Linked DNA regions of Homo sapiens: regions 1 and 3 are each linked to region 2. Evidence: fine-mapped expression QTL. A gene starts in region 2. Each other region holds a variant in brackets. All regions are shown on one strand. Distances are between the middles of the regions.

What was found. PIP is the estimated chance that this variant, and not a neighbour inherited with it, causes the effect. A credible set is the group of variants that fine-mapping cannot tell apart.
Region 1: its variant is the best candidate, but not a certain one, in a credible set for the expression of MAFB in monocytes (TOPMed, PIP 0.51).
Region 3: its variant is the best candidate, but not a certain one, in a credible set for the expression of MAFB in whole blood (GTEx, PIP 0.59).

The regions. Positions count from the first base shown.
Region 1 is chr20:40,484,704-40,488,944 of GRCh38, reverse strand. No RefSeq gene overlaps it. Among named protein-coding and RNA genes, the nearest start is that of MAFB, 200 kb to the left of the region's middle. The variant A/G (reference allele first, on the strand shown) is at 1,957.
Region 2 is chr20:40,687,133-40,691,373 of GRCh38, reverse strand. MAFB (MAF bZIP transcription factor B) reads left to right here and starts at 2,138. Exons shown (of 1, transcript NM_005461.5): 1 at 2,138-4,241. The coding sequence starts at 2,524. The coding sequence ends at 3,495. RefSeq lists enhancers at 1-947, 948-1,925 and silencers at 1,876-2,185, 2,206-2,275.
Region 3 is chr20:40,460,244-40,464,484 of GRCh38, reverse strand. LOC105372618 (a long non-coding RNA gene) reads left to right here. Exons shown (of 3, transcript XR_936718.3): 2 at 44-165. Among named protein-coding and RNA genes, the nearest start is that of MAFB, 230 kb to the left of the region's middle. The variant T/C (reference allele first, on the strand shown) is at 1,638.

The sequences.
Region 1 (4,241 bases), 200 kb after region 2:
TAAATCTTTTATTTCATACCGTTCGTGGGGTCCTGCCTACATATTCAGAAATTTGTTCATGGTAGAGAAATATTTATTAAGTGTCTTCTACATGTCAGGCATAGTCTGGGGGTCTGGGATGTATCAATGAACAGAAGAAAAATACATACTTATGCATTCGGGACATGCTTTTATACCCCACATTTTAATAATTCATTGCCTATTAGAAATAAAATCTAACTGCCCTGTGTTCTTATTTGCTACTCCTGGCAATCCTACCCATCATGGGCAGTGAGATACTGGTGGACTTCCAGCCCTGTGTTTGGGACCCAACTTTGTACCATTCACATTGCACTGATAGCCTCTGCAGTTCCACAGCCTCAGCACATTTGAAGTGACTCATGGTGAGTCTGAGTTTCCTCCAACAACAGTCTTTTTATTAGAAGCCCAAGCTCTCGTTCACTTTTTTACCTTTTTGGAGACCAAGGTAAATTTATTACCTTGAAATAAGTGGTGCGATGCTATATCCTCTTTAATTCTCACACCAGCCTTGTAAGGTACATATTATTACTAATTACATCTACAATGTAGAAAGTGAGGTTCATAGAGATTTAGTAACATGCCCCAAATCCCAGAGCTGGGAAGTAGTAGAACCAGGATTTGAACACCAGTCAATCTGACTTTCAGTGGGCTTTGTTCACCTACCTTATTTATGTCATAGATGCCTCAGTTTCTCAGCAAGGGGAAGCATACCTATGTTGAATCAGTTAGACTCATCTTTAGCAAATAGTCCAATCTGCTTGGATATATAGCCTTGGGCTTCTTTTTGGGAAGCCCAAGCATGTTGATGACCATGGGGTGATGGTGATGATGATCTCCAGGCACAATGAAGGCTGAAGAAGAATGAGTTCTCACGCTTACAGAACACTGATGGTGGTGACCCATTCAGTTGACCTGTTTCTCTGGTTTCCCAAGGCCAGGTGCTCATCTCTGCTGTAAAGAACTCCATCTGTGACAGGGACTGTAGAGGCTTGTTAGGCTGGTTCTCTTCCAAAGTAGAATAGAGGATGTCACGCATCGTTGGCACCAGGCTGTGGTCTTGGGGGCAGCTTTGGGGAACAAGCCATTGGCTGAGATGAGGGAGCCAGAGCAACAGCTCAGCTTGTCTTCAGGTCTCTTTCTATTGACCTCTTTTTAGAAGCAGAGACAGATGTTGACAGAGACACACACACATTTGAGATGATATTGCATATAGTATTTTGTATCATGAATCTTTTCCTAACCCTATATTACAACTTTTTGACAAGTTTTTAAACATTCTTCAAAAACACGATTTTTAATGACTGGGTAGTATTACTTATGGACACACCATAATTTAATAGACAATCTCTTTGTCATCAGTTATGTAAGCTCATTCTTTTTTTTCCACATTTAGTAATTAGCTTATTTCTAGATGATTTATATTTTAAATTACATATAGGAGGTATTAAATATTTTTAAAGTTACAAAGATGATAGATTTCCATTAGTTTTCTAATATGTTATTATTGCAATTTTGAAAAAATGTATATTTATTTTATATCAAGCCCTTATACTCAATCTTCAAATTAACACATTTTTATTTGATTGTCTTAGGATTTGAGATGTGTGGTAATGTCATGAGTAAGTGTTCATAAATTCATTTTCTTTTTTCTAATAGTTACATTTCAATGTTCTTCTTGTTTTATTGCTTTAACTAGAATTTCCAGAGCAATTATTAGTGATGATATTGTAGGGAACATTCTTGACTTGCTCCTACTTCTAATAGCAATGCCGCTTATATAGTGCCATTAGGTATAAAATTGACTATTGCTTTCAAGGTAGACATTTTAATCATGTCATATTAGGTTTGAATTTTCCTATTCCTTATATTCTATGATTTTTTTTCCTAAAAAATGGACATCAAACTTACCAATTACTTATTAATATTTATCCAGAT[A/G]ATTGCACTTTCATTGACCTGATACATATATTTGTAATGTATCATTAAATAATAGCATTAAATAGCTCTCATTAATAGCATTAAATAATCTCTTTATTAGTGATTTTAAATAACTGTTTTTAATATTTTAATGAATTACATTTGCTGGTGTGCTTGTAGAATTTTTGTAACAATCTTTAAAAGCAAGGTTAGTTTATAGTTCTGATATCCATATAGTACATGCATACTGACATAAAAGAGATGGGAATAAAATACATCAAATTGTTAGCAGTGGTCTCTTCTATGTTGGATGGTGGAATACTGGATTCATTTTACTACTTTTCCCTAAAATTTAATATACATTTTTATGACAAAAGTGAACATTATATCAGTTATCTACTGCTATGTAAGAAATCAACCCAAAACTTAGTGGCTAAAATAACAACCATTCTATTGACTCATGACTCTGAGGGCCAATAATTTGGGCTGTGCTCAGCTGGGTGTTTCTTCTGTTGGTCTTGCCCACAGTTACACAATTCTATTGCAGTCAGCTGGTGGATTTGCTGGGGGCCGGTTGATCTAGAGGACCCTAGCTGAGACACTTGTTTCTGTTTCCTGTCATGTCATTCAACTTGATAGAAGGAGCAGCAACGTCAAATTGCAAAGGAGGGGTGCGTGCAGCAATGAGAAGTACTATTGCAGACAACTTTGCCAAGTTAGCTACAAACATGCCTTATAATTAAAAACAAAAAATAATATTTTAAAAAAGGATAATATGCAGTGATGAAAAAGATGGCAAAGTGAGTTTTTTACACATTGCCGATGAGGCTATTAACATTGTAACAAAAAATGATTTGGCAATGAATTTCATGAGTGGTAAAGTGTTAGTAGACTTTGACCTAATTTTTCTATAACTTGGAGTTTATTCTAAGGAAATAATCAGTTTAATAAAAATTATGTATAAGAATTTTTCTGTATAGCATTATTTATAAGTGAAATATTAAACACAATGTAAATGTCAAATATTAGAGGATTTAGTGACAGCAGATGGCATCTCCATATGATGAAACATGATATAACCACAAAAATTATATTTTGGGCATGACAAAGTTTAAAAAGTAAGATTTGTGTGCTTTCATTGAGTCTAGTTTTGAAAATTGATTGTATTCATATATGTTAATACAATAAACTTTTCTTCATATGAATACAACACCATACATGTATGCATATACAGAAAAATAACTGGAAGACCTATATGAGCATAATAATGGTAATTATTTCTGGGTGGTGCTTGGGTTACTGGTGGTCTTTATATTATTAAAGCCACAGGTGTCAGTTTGGGGCCAACCTGCCACTTTTGAGTTAGACAGTGCGGATTTTAACTGCCATCCCATGTCCTGTGGAAAGTCCACATCTTCCTAATGAGTTGTGTGGATCCTTGAGGACTTGCATTCTCATCATCACCTCTGATAGTGACTTCTTATCTTTAGAATTCCATTATTCCATTCTCTCTTTTGTGTGTGTGTGTGTGTGTGTGTGTGTGTGTGTGTGTGTGTGTGTGTGTGTTTAAATTATTTTTGTAGAGACAGGGTCTCACTACGTTGCCCAGGCTGGTCTCGAACTCCGAGCCTCAAGCGATCCTCCCACCTTGGCCTCCCAAAGTGTGTGGTTCTTATATCTCTGATCTGGTAGCTTAACCAATGCATGGGGCATAGTTCCTTCTCTTTTATTTCTACCTCCAGTCCTCCTTCAAACAATCTGGAATATGAATCTCTTGCATGTACCATACTAGACTCTTACTAAAGATCTATGGCTTAAGAGAAGGGTTATTATCATATACCATATAAAAGATGAATACATCCTATATTATATCAGAGATACTTAAAGATTTTCTTTTTTGTTTTCATGGACCCTATTGGCAGTTTTGTGAAAACTATAGACCCTTTCAAATATTATGTTTTTAAATTCATGCAATAAAATGTACAGGATTATAAAGAAAATGAATTATGTTGAAATAAAGTTATCAAATATTTAAGAAAAAGCAAACTGGTAATACAGTGATGTAAAGTGCTTCTTTATTAATAATGCATTCAGTAACATGATACACAGGTTAGACAGAAATTGAGTATAATATTAAAGTAATGATAAGTATAAATGATATCTTGAAATGTATTCAACAACTACAATATGACATGAGACCATCTGTGATTTCTATTGATTGCAAAGCCACAAAAGTTACCAATAACTATTGTGATGTGTTGCCTACATTTATAATTGAAGAAAATGTTAATTTTTAGTTGGAGGTT
Region 2 (4,241 bases):
GTCCAGTCGGGACCAAGAGAGTCAGGCGTGCTTGTCCCGCCCTGGCCGCCTGAGGCCGGAGCCATACATAGTCTGCACAGATCCGAGACACCCGGTCCCGAGTGATCTGGAAACGAGTGTGCTCTCACTGCGTTCAAACAAGACGAGGACATTTACAAGGTGCGAGTCCCCAACCCCCAGCTACTGGCAGGGGCTGCGCAGCGGCACCGCCCAGGCTCTCTCTCCAGGCGGCCGACTCATTTCTGCGGAGAGCACGCTTCTCGAAGAGGGTTGTAGACGCGCTCTTCCAGCATTTAATTTGCCACCCCACAAGATTGAGTTAAGTTTTAGTTAAAATACACTCATTTTATTAAAAATAGGCGGCCCAATACCACGCCGTACCCCAGCCTCTCCGAGGGCGCAAGAGAATAGAGAGTTTTCAGATTAATTGGAGGCAAATATTTTACCTTCTAACATTTAAAAATAATCTAGGCGCGTCTGCACCGGTGTGGCTCACGCGACCCCTACGCGCGAGGTCAGTCGGGCTGGTCCAGCGCAGACAGCGGCCGGGACTCACTCACCCAGTGCGCGCCTCTCCTGCCTTTCGCTGCGCGCGCCCAAAGCTAGAAAGAAGAAGGTGACGCGGGAGGCGGGTCGGGTCTCCGGGTCCAGCGAATTCGCGATCTATCCGGTTTCGGCGCCTGAGCCGAGGTCTCAGAAAGAACCCGTTAATTCTAGCCATCCTGGATCTGGGTAGGGAGGGTGCGCGGCTCCCAAGCCCAGTCTGGATGCCTAGTGCGGTGTGCTTCGGTCTCCCCGTCTGCCCTCCGGGGAGGTTTCTCACCCGGTGGCCCTGGGCCGCTTCACTGTGGCGCTTCCACTTTTGGCTACCGGCCTTCCTCCGCCCAGGACCTTCCGGCCCAGGGAGCAGCCGACGGGCACCCCCGAACGCTGGGGCACGGAATTTCAACGGGGCGACCAGAGCGGAGCTCGCGGCTCGAGGCTCGCGGCTGAGTACGAAGACGGGACCCGAGGACCTGTACATCGCTCGAGGGGAACCTGTCCTGGGCTCTGGTGCACACATAGTATGCGTTCTGGGCTGGCTTGGGTTGGGCCAGGTAGGGGAGACCTGGCTGGGTACGAGGCGCCGTCCAAGCCTTCCGGCCGTGGGCCGGGCGGTCGCGGCGCCTTTGCGCACAGTGGCCACTTGGGGTCGCACTTTATGCCTGTTTGAGCCTCTCCGCGGCGGGCTGACGCCGGGATCTGCTTAATCGTTACAAAACGTTCAAACAAAAACAGGGCCGGCTCCCCAGCAGTGGAGAGCTACTCGGAGCACCGTCCCGGGCCGGCCTCGGCCCCGAGGCTCCGGGGGCTCAGGATTCCGTGCGTGTGGCGGGGAAGAGGAATTCAGAGCCTTTGGGCTGCTGCTTTTCCCGTCGCCTTCACTGTGAACATTGTGCGGTGGGGTGAACGCGGGGAGCGGCGGGGCCAGTGGAGTCGAACCTCAGGGCTCTGCGACTGCACCCGCCAGGAGGGGCCCTCGCTTGGCCTGAGAAAGGTCCCCTGAGGTTAAGAGTTGGGTCTGAACACAACTCTCGGAGCCTCGAGCCCGCCCTCCCCAACATACAAATACGCGCAGATCTCCAGAAACAGGAACGCACGACACACACGGCCAGAAGCCGCGAGGACACACAGAGCGTCGCCCACTGGGCGGGGGCCGCTTGGGAACAAAGGGCCCAGGAGGCGTTGTCCCGGCGCTCATTCTGAGCCTCCTTGGGGGTGACACGGGATGGGGGTGGGGTGCAAAGGGAACTGAGGGAGGAGAGTGCGCGAGGAGGGGAAAGCGGTGATTTGGCCTAGAGGTGGGGCGCGCACTCCAGGCGAGCGTGCGTGGGCCGGGACCTGCAGGGTACGGGGGTGGGCCCAGGCTGGCCGTCCCACTCCGCTCCAGCGCTCCGCCAGGCCTCCGCCGCTCCGGGGCCGCTCGGGCCGCCAGTCAGCTGACGCGGGGGGCGGGGGAGCTGTCAGGCGCGCCCCGCCCTGCGCCGCTGGGCCGCGGAGGCCGTGCAGCTATTGGCCCGCGCACCGGGCCGCCCGGGCCCCCGCACCCCAGTGACATCAGGAGGCGATAAAAGGCTGCGGCGCCGCCGGATCCAGCACAGCTGCACCGCCGAGCTGCGAGCGGCTGCGAGCGAGAGAGCGTAAGAGCAAGAGAGCTAGAGAGCGAGCAACGGGCACTCGCCCCACGCCTCCCCTCAGCCCCACCGCGCGCTCCGCTTGCCTCTCCACCCCGCCCGACTCTACCCGGCCCGGTCCCTGCGCGGGCACAGCCCAGAGCTCTGGGGCGGTGCAGGCAGCCTCGGGACTCTCCGGCGCGCCGCCGCGTCCCCAGACAAAGGCTTGGCCGGCGGCCCCGGCCCGCTGCGCCCTCGCTCCCCGCCTCCCCAGCTCTTCTCCGCTCTTCCCCCCCGCGCTTGGCTCGGCGCGCTCCGGCCGGCCGCAAAGTTTCCCGGGCGGCAGCGGCGGCTGCGCCTCGCTTCAGCGATGGCCGCGGAGCTGAGCATGGGGCCAGAGCTGCCCACCAGCCCGCTGGCCATGGAGTATGTCAACGACTTCGACCTGCTCAAGTTCGACGTGAAGAAGGAGCCACTGGGGCGCGCGGAGCGTCCGGGCAGGCCCTGCACACGCCTGCAGCCAGCCGGCTCGGTGTCCTCCACACCGCTCAGCACTCCGTGTAGCTCCGTGCCCTCGTCGCCCAGCTTCAGCCCGACCGAACAGAAGACACACCTCGAGGATCTGTACTGGATGGCGAGCAACTACCAGCAGATGAACCCCGAGGCGCTCAACCTGACGCCCGAGGACGCGGTGGAAGCGCTCATCGGCTCGCACCCAGTGCCACAGCCGCTGCAAAGCTTCGACAGCTTTCGCGGCGCTCACCACCACCACCATCACCACCACCCTCACCCGCACCACGCGTACCCGGGCGCCGGCGTGGCCCACGACGAGCTGGGCCCGCACGCTCACCCGCACCATCACCATCATCACCAAGCGTCGCCGCCGCCGTCCAGCGCCGCTAGCCCGGCGCAACAGCTGCCCACTAGCCACCCCGGGCCCGGGCCGCACGCGACGGCCTCGGCGACGGCGGCGGGCGGCAACGGCAGCGTGGAGGACCGCTTCTCCGACGACCAGCTCGTGTCCATGTCCGTGCGCGAGCTGAACCGCCACCTGCGGGGCTTCACCAAGGACGAGGTGATCCGCCTGAAGCAGAAGCGGCGGACCCTGAAGAACCGGGGCTACGCCCAGTCTTGCAGGTATAAACGCGTCCAGCAGAAGCACCACCTGGAGAATGAGAAGACGCAGCTCATTCAGCAGGTGGAGCAGCTTAAGCAGGAGGTGTCCCGGCTGGCCCGCGAGAGAGACGCCTACAAGGTCAAGTGCGAGAAACTCGCCAACTCCGGCTTCAGGGAGGCGGGCTCCACCAGCGACAGCCCCTCCTCTCCCGAGTTCTTTCTGTGAGTCGTGGCCGGTCCTGGCCCCCGCCCTTGCCCCGGCCCGGACTCCCTGTCCCACGTCCCTAGTCCCAGACTACCCCGGACCCTGTCCCTGCCGCGGCCCCAGCCTTGACCTGTTTGACTTGAGCGAGAGGGAGGAAGGGCGCGCGGGCCGCGGGCGACGGGCGGGTGCGCGGGCGGGCAGGGGACCTTGGCTAAGGCGAGAGTAGCGCACGCCAGCGCCGCCTCCTAGACTCGAGCAGAGCCGGAGAGAGAGACGAGAGGGTGGGAGGTCCCGGAGTAACTTCTCTCCAGGCTGAAGGGCGGCGAGGCATAGTCCCGAGAAGTCACCAAGGCCATCTGGAGACTCCTGGCTTTCTGAACTTTGCGCGTTAAGCCGGGACAGCTGCTTTGCTGCCCGGAGAGTAGTCCGCGCCAGGAAGAGAGCAACGAGGAAAGGAGAGGGACTCTGGCGTCCCGGCAGGCGAGAGGCGAGGCTGAGCGAAAGAAGGAAGGACAGACGGACCTGTCTGTCAGAGTTCGGAGAACACTGGCTCTCAGCCCTGAGACACAGGCCTCAGTTAGGACGCTCGGCGCCCAAATCTCATCAGTTTTATTGCCTGCTCGATTATATAGAAAAATACAAAAAATCTGCATTAAAAATATTAATCCTGCATGCTGGACATGTATGGTAATAATTTCTATTTTGTACCATTTTCTTGTTTAACTTTAGCATGTTGTTGATCATGGATCATACTCCCCTTGTTTCTT
Region 3 (4,241 bases), 230 kb after region 2:
GTATTCTTCTGTTACATGGGTCTAATCTTCCTTTCTTCTTTAGACAGCTGTTGTGACAGTAAAGTGAGACCCTTGTAGCAAAAGCACTTTTCGGACTCCATGATGTTAGGAAACTGCAAAACACCTTCTTCTGAGTCCAGAGACTGGAAAATGAACTCTTGTGTGGTGAGAATGAAAAGATCCCTTTCTTTTATTTATTTAGCACACATGAAACATGTATATGTATTCATTATACGCCAGGGACTCTTCTAAGTACTTGACAAATATTCACATATTTACATTCTCCTAATCACACGATGATAAATATACAACTGTTGTCCCTGTTTTCCAGATGAGAAAACTGTGGCACAGAAAAGTTAAGTAACTTGCCTAAAGCCACATAGCTAGTAAGTAGCAGAGCCAGGATTCAAACCTAGGCGCTATGGCTATAGAGCCCATGCTCTTCACCATTACATCATGTTAACTTCTTTGCTTGGGATGTTTGGTAGAGCAAAGATAACTTGAGAAGTACAACAGACTGATAGTGAATCTTAGTCCTGCCATTTAGCTGTGTGGCCTTGGGAAGGTTAATTAAATTCTCTGAGCCCTTACTCCCTTATCTATCAAACGAGAATACAAATGTCCATATCAGACAAGTTTTGCAAAGGTTAAATTGAGGCACATTGTCTGGCACAGGCACAATGAGGTGCACAGGTAATGTGAGTTGGATTTGTAGGCAGGGCCTTACCTGAACTCGGCCTTAGCCATTTACTTGATTATGGTTGATTCGGACTTTTCCATGCTCTGCCCACCAGCCTGCTGGGTAACCACATACTTCAGAGTGTGAAGGACCCTGCCCATACCAACTCTAACACTCTCAGGGTGTCTGCCTTGCAGATTGGGGTAGGGAAGCTCTTGTTCACATGCCTGGGCTTGTCTAACAATTACAATTTTTCAGGCCCAGGGTGTCAGCTCCCAGGCTCCTGTTTCCTTTGGGCTCCAAAGAGCAAACAGGGCCCTGCACTTCTCTGTCCACCTCCCCTTCCAAAAACTTACTGGTTAATTTTAGGGTTGGGGAGAGGCTCTGACGAGGGCCTGCCCACGTGGGGTTAAGGTTACCAGTGGCCTCTGCCTCTGGTCAGGCTCGCTGGGAACAGCCGCAGTCACTTCCCGAAGCTCAGTGGGGGCAGGAGCTCGGCCAGGGCAGTGGGCAGTGGTTGGGCACAACATTTCCAAGATGTTGGGAGCCCTGCCTCAGCAGACCAGACCCACAGCCCACATTTTTGCAAAAGAGACACTGTCTTTTATCAGGCATAGCCTGATGCAGTTATATTTTTCATATCATTTTAACTCTAGAAATGGCCCAGCATTTACTACTGCAAAAACTTAATCATGTCTGCCTTACCTGAGGCCCCTTTAAAAGATAAATGCTGACAGATTATCTCAATAATAAGGAAGAAGTCTAGTCACAGTTCTTTACTCTCCATTAAAGGTCTCGCAAACCACGTATTGATTTTTTTAAAGAAAAGAAATTGGAAGAAGCATGTACCAATTAAGAATAAAACTAACAATTTATTACCCTTAGATCTTTAAGGCAAATAGGGAGTAGAAAAACACTTGCTTTTTTTCCTTCCCTCTATTGAGACATAATAATTAGG[T/C]AACTATGTAAATAACCTTGTATTAAAACCTGAGACAGCCTGCGGTTACTCAGGCTTCTGTACTGGATCATAAAGATCAGTTACTGCTCCTGGGTTCTCTGAGTTTTGCAAAGCTTTTCTCCCTTTTCTGAAGGGCTCTTAGAAAAATTGTTTCCTTCCCTTTTCTTTTGCTTTGAGCAGGCTGATCATAAGCTCATCTTCTTACTTGTTTGTAAGTTTACTGAATGAGCTCTTGGAGTTTCTTGTTTGTTTCTGTATTCCACAAGCTTTGATTGAGCACAAACTATGTGTTTGTGTTGCTCTTTATATTAGATGATGAACACTGTTACAGAGAAACATTGAGCAGGCAAAGAGGACATTGAGAATTTCCAGGACGGTAACACTAAGATGACGACAAATTTTTCATTGAAGTAGAAACTAAAAACAAGGAAAATATTTTAGAACTGATCTGTCATGTACATGTCTGGCCAGGCCACCCCATCTTTTTTGTGTGTGCAATGATTCTCTGCCGGATAAATATTTGTTAAATATGTAAATAAATGTCTCCCTCCATCTGAAAAGTAAGCACCACCAGGGTAGGCATTTTATGTTTTTTACTGATGTATCCCACACGCTGAGAACTATACCTGACACATATCAGGCCCTCCATTAATATATGTTGAATAAACAAAGAGTTGTCCTCAGTTCATGGATTTGTCTGGCATTCAAAAAGTTTTTTCTAATACCTACTTTAAGTCAGGAATTGGCCTAGGTGCTAGGAACACAAACACGATTGGCCTGGGGCTGCCTTTTTTGATCTTTCAGACAAGGGGAGGAGAGTGAGTTGATCAAGCTAACATAATACTATGTTGTTAAGTGTTAAGCTAGGAGGATGTTGAGATACTCTCTTGCAGAATATGGTAGGATACTTCAGCAAAACCTGTGGAGTGAAAGAATCGTGCTTAGGTAAAAAAAGGATTGAGATGGAGTGAGCAATTGAGTTCCAGGAACTAGAAGAGGAGGTCTAATGATTGAAAGTGACAGAAAACAAGGAGCCAGAGAAATGGAGGCTGCTGCTAGGCCTCGGGTGAGAAGCAGGGAGTGGTGAGATGAGGCTGGAAGAACAAGCAGAGGCCGAATTGTGCAGAGCCTCACATGGGGTTCAGATTTAATTTAAAGACAGCATGAAGCCATTGATGGGTTGCCAGGGGACCAGGGAGGTCAAATTTCTGTTTTGGAAAAATCCCTCTGGTTTCTAGGTATAGGATGGATTTAAAGGAGAGAGCCCAGGCCAAGAGGCAGCTAAGAGCTTCTCCTACAACCCAGGGGAGATGTGGTGGAGACCTGGATGAGAGTGGACAGGCTGTGGGCTGGAAGAACCAGAGAGATTTATGAGAGAAAGACTAACGGGTTGGGGGTTAGAGAGAGGTCAGAGTAGTGGGCGACTCTGAGGTTTCTGGTTTGGTCAACTGGGAAGATAGTTTGAAATAGTTCAGGTGCAGTGTGGGAGAGAAAATTGACATGGAGTCCATATGTATGTCTTGGGAGACCGAGAGGTTTATGGCTCCACTGAAATAATTCTTCAGTTTACTCTGAAGACACATGAGTGAGAAGGAGGAAAAAATGCAATTTAAAAAGTTGTGTTGACATGAATGCACATCCACACCAGATATCTGGAGACAAAGGGCATGGATGGATTGATGTCCTGCATTGTGCAAACTGGTGTCTACTTTGTTCAAATTCAAGAATTTTATCCAAATTTCTATATTACCCTGGAAGAATAATTTAAAACACAGTTGGACCAGGTGCAGTGGCACACGTCTGTAATTCCAGCACTTTGGGATTGCGAGGTGGAAGAATTGCTTGAGCCCAGCAGTTCAAGAGCAGCCTGGGCAACCCCAGGCTTTTGATAGTGAGACCCCATCTCTCTCTCAAAAAACATAAAACTCTCTATATCCATAAGTTTCACATCTGTGGATTCAACCAACTGTGGATCAAAAATATTGAAAACAAATTTAAAAAAGGATGGTTGCATCTGTACTAAACATGTGTAGACATTTTTCCTTCTTATTATTCTCCAAACAATACAGTATAACAACTATTTAGATAGCATTTACCTTGTATTAGGTATAAGTAATCTAGAGAGGATTTAAAGTATATGGGAAGATGTGCATAGGTTCTATGCAAATACTATACCATTTTATATTAGAGACTTGAGCATCTGCAGATTTTGGTTTCCACAGGGTGTTCTGGAACCAATCCCCTGAGGATACTGAGGGACAACTGTATTGTCTTGGATGGTCTCTGATGCTGTAGTATCAGTCCTCTTTCCGTGGCTGAGAGTGGGGTGGGTGAGAAAGGAATTGGGCTTACTGTATTTTTCAGCACACTGAACCTTTCCTTGCTTTTTGAATCATTTCCTTTTACTCTAATAATTTTGGAAGTATAATATTATGAAGTACAATATCAATATTGCACAAGGAATAACCCCACACTTAGAATTCATTCATTCATCCATCCATCTATCTGACCACTCACCAGTAATCTTTCCTTCCTTCCTTCCTTCCTTCCTTCCTTCCTTCCTTCCTTCCTTCCTTCCTTCCTTCCTTCCTTCCTTCTCTCCTT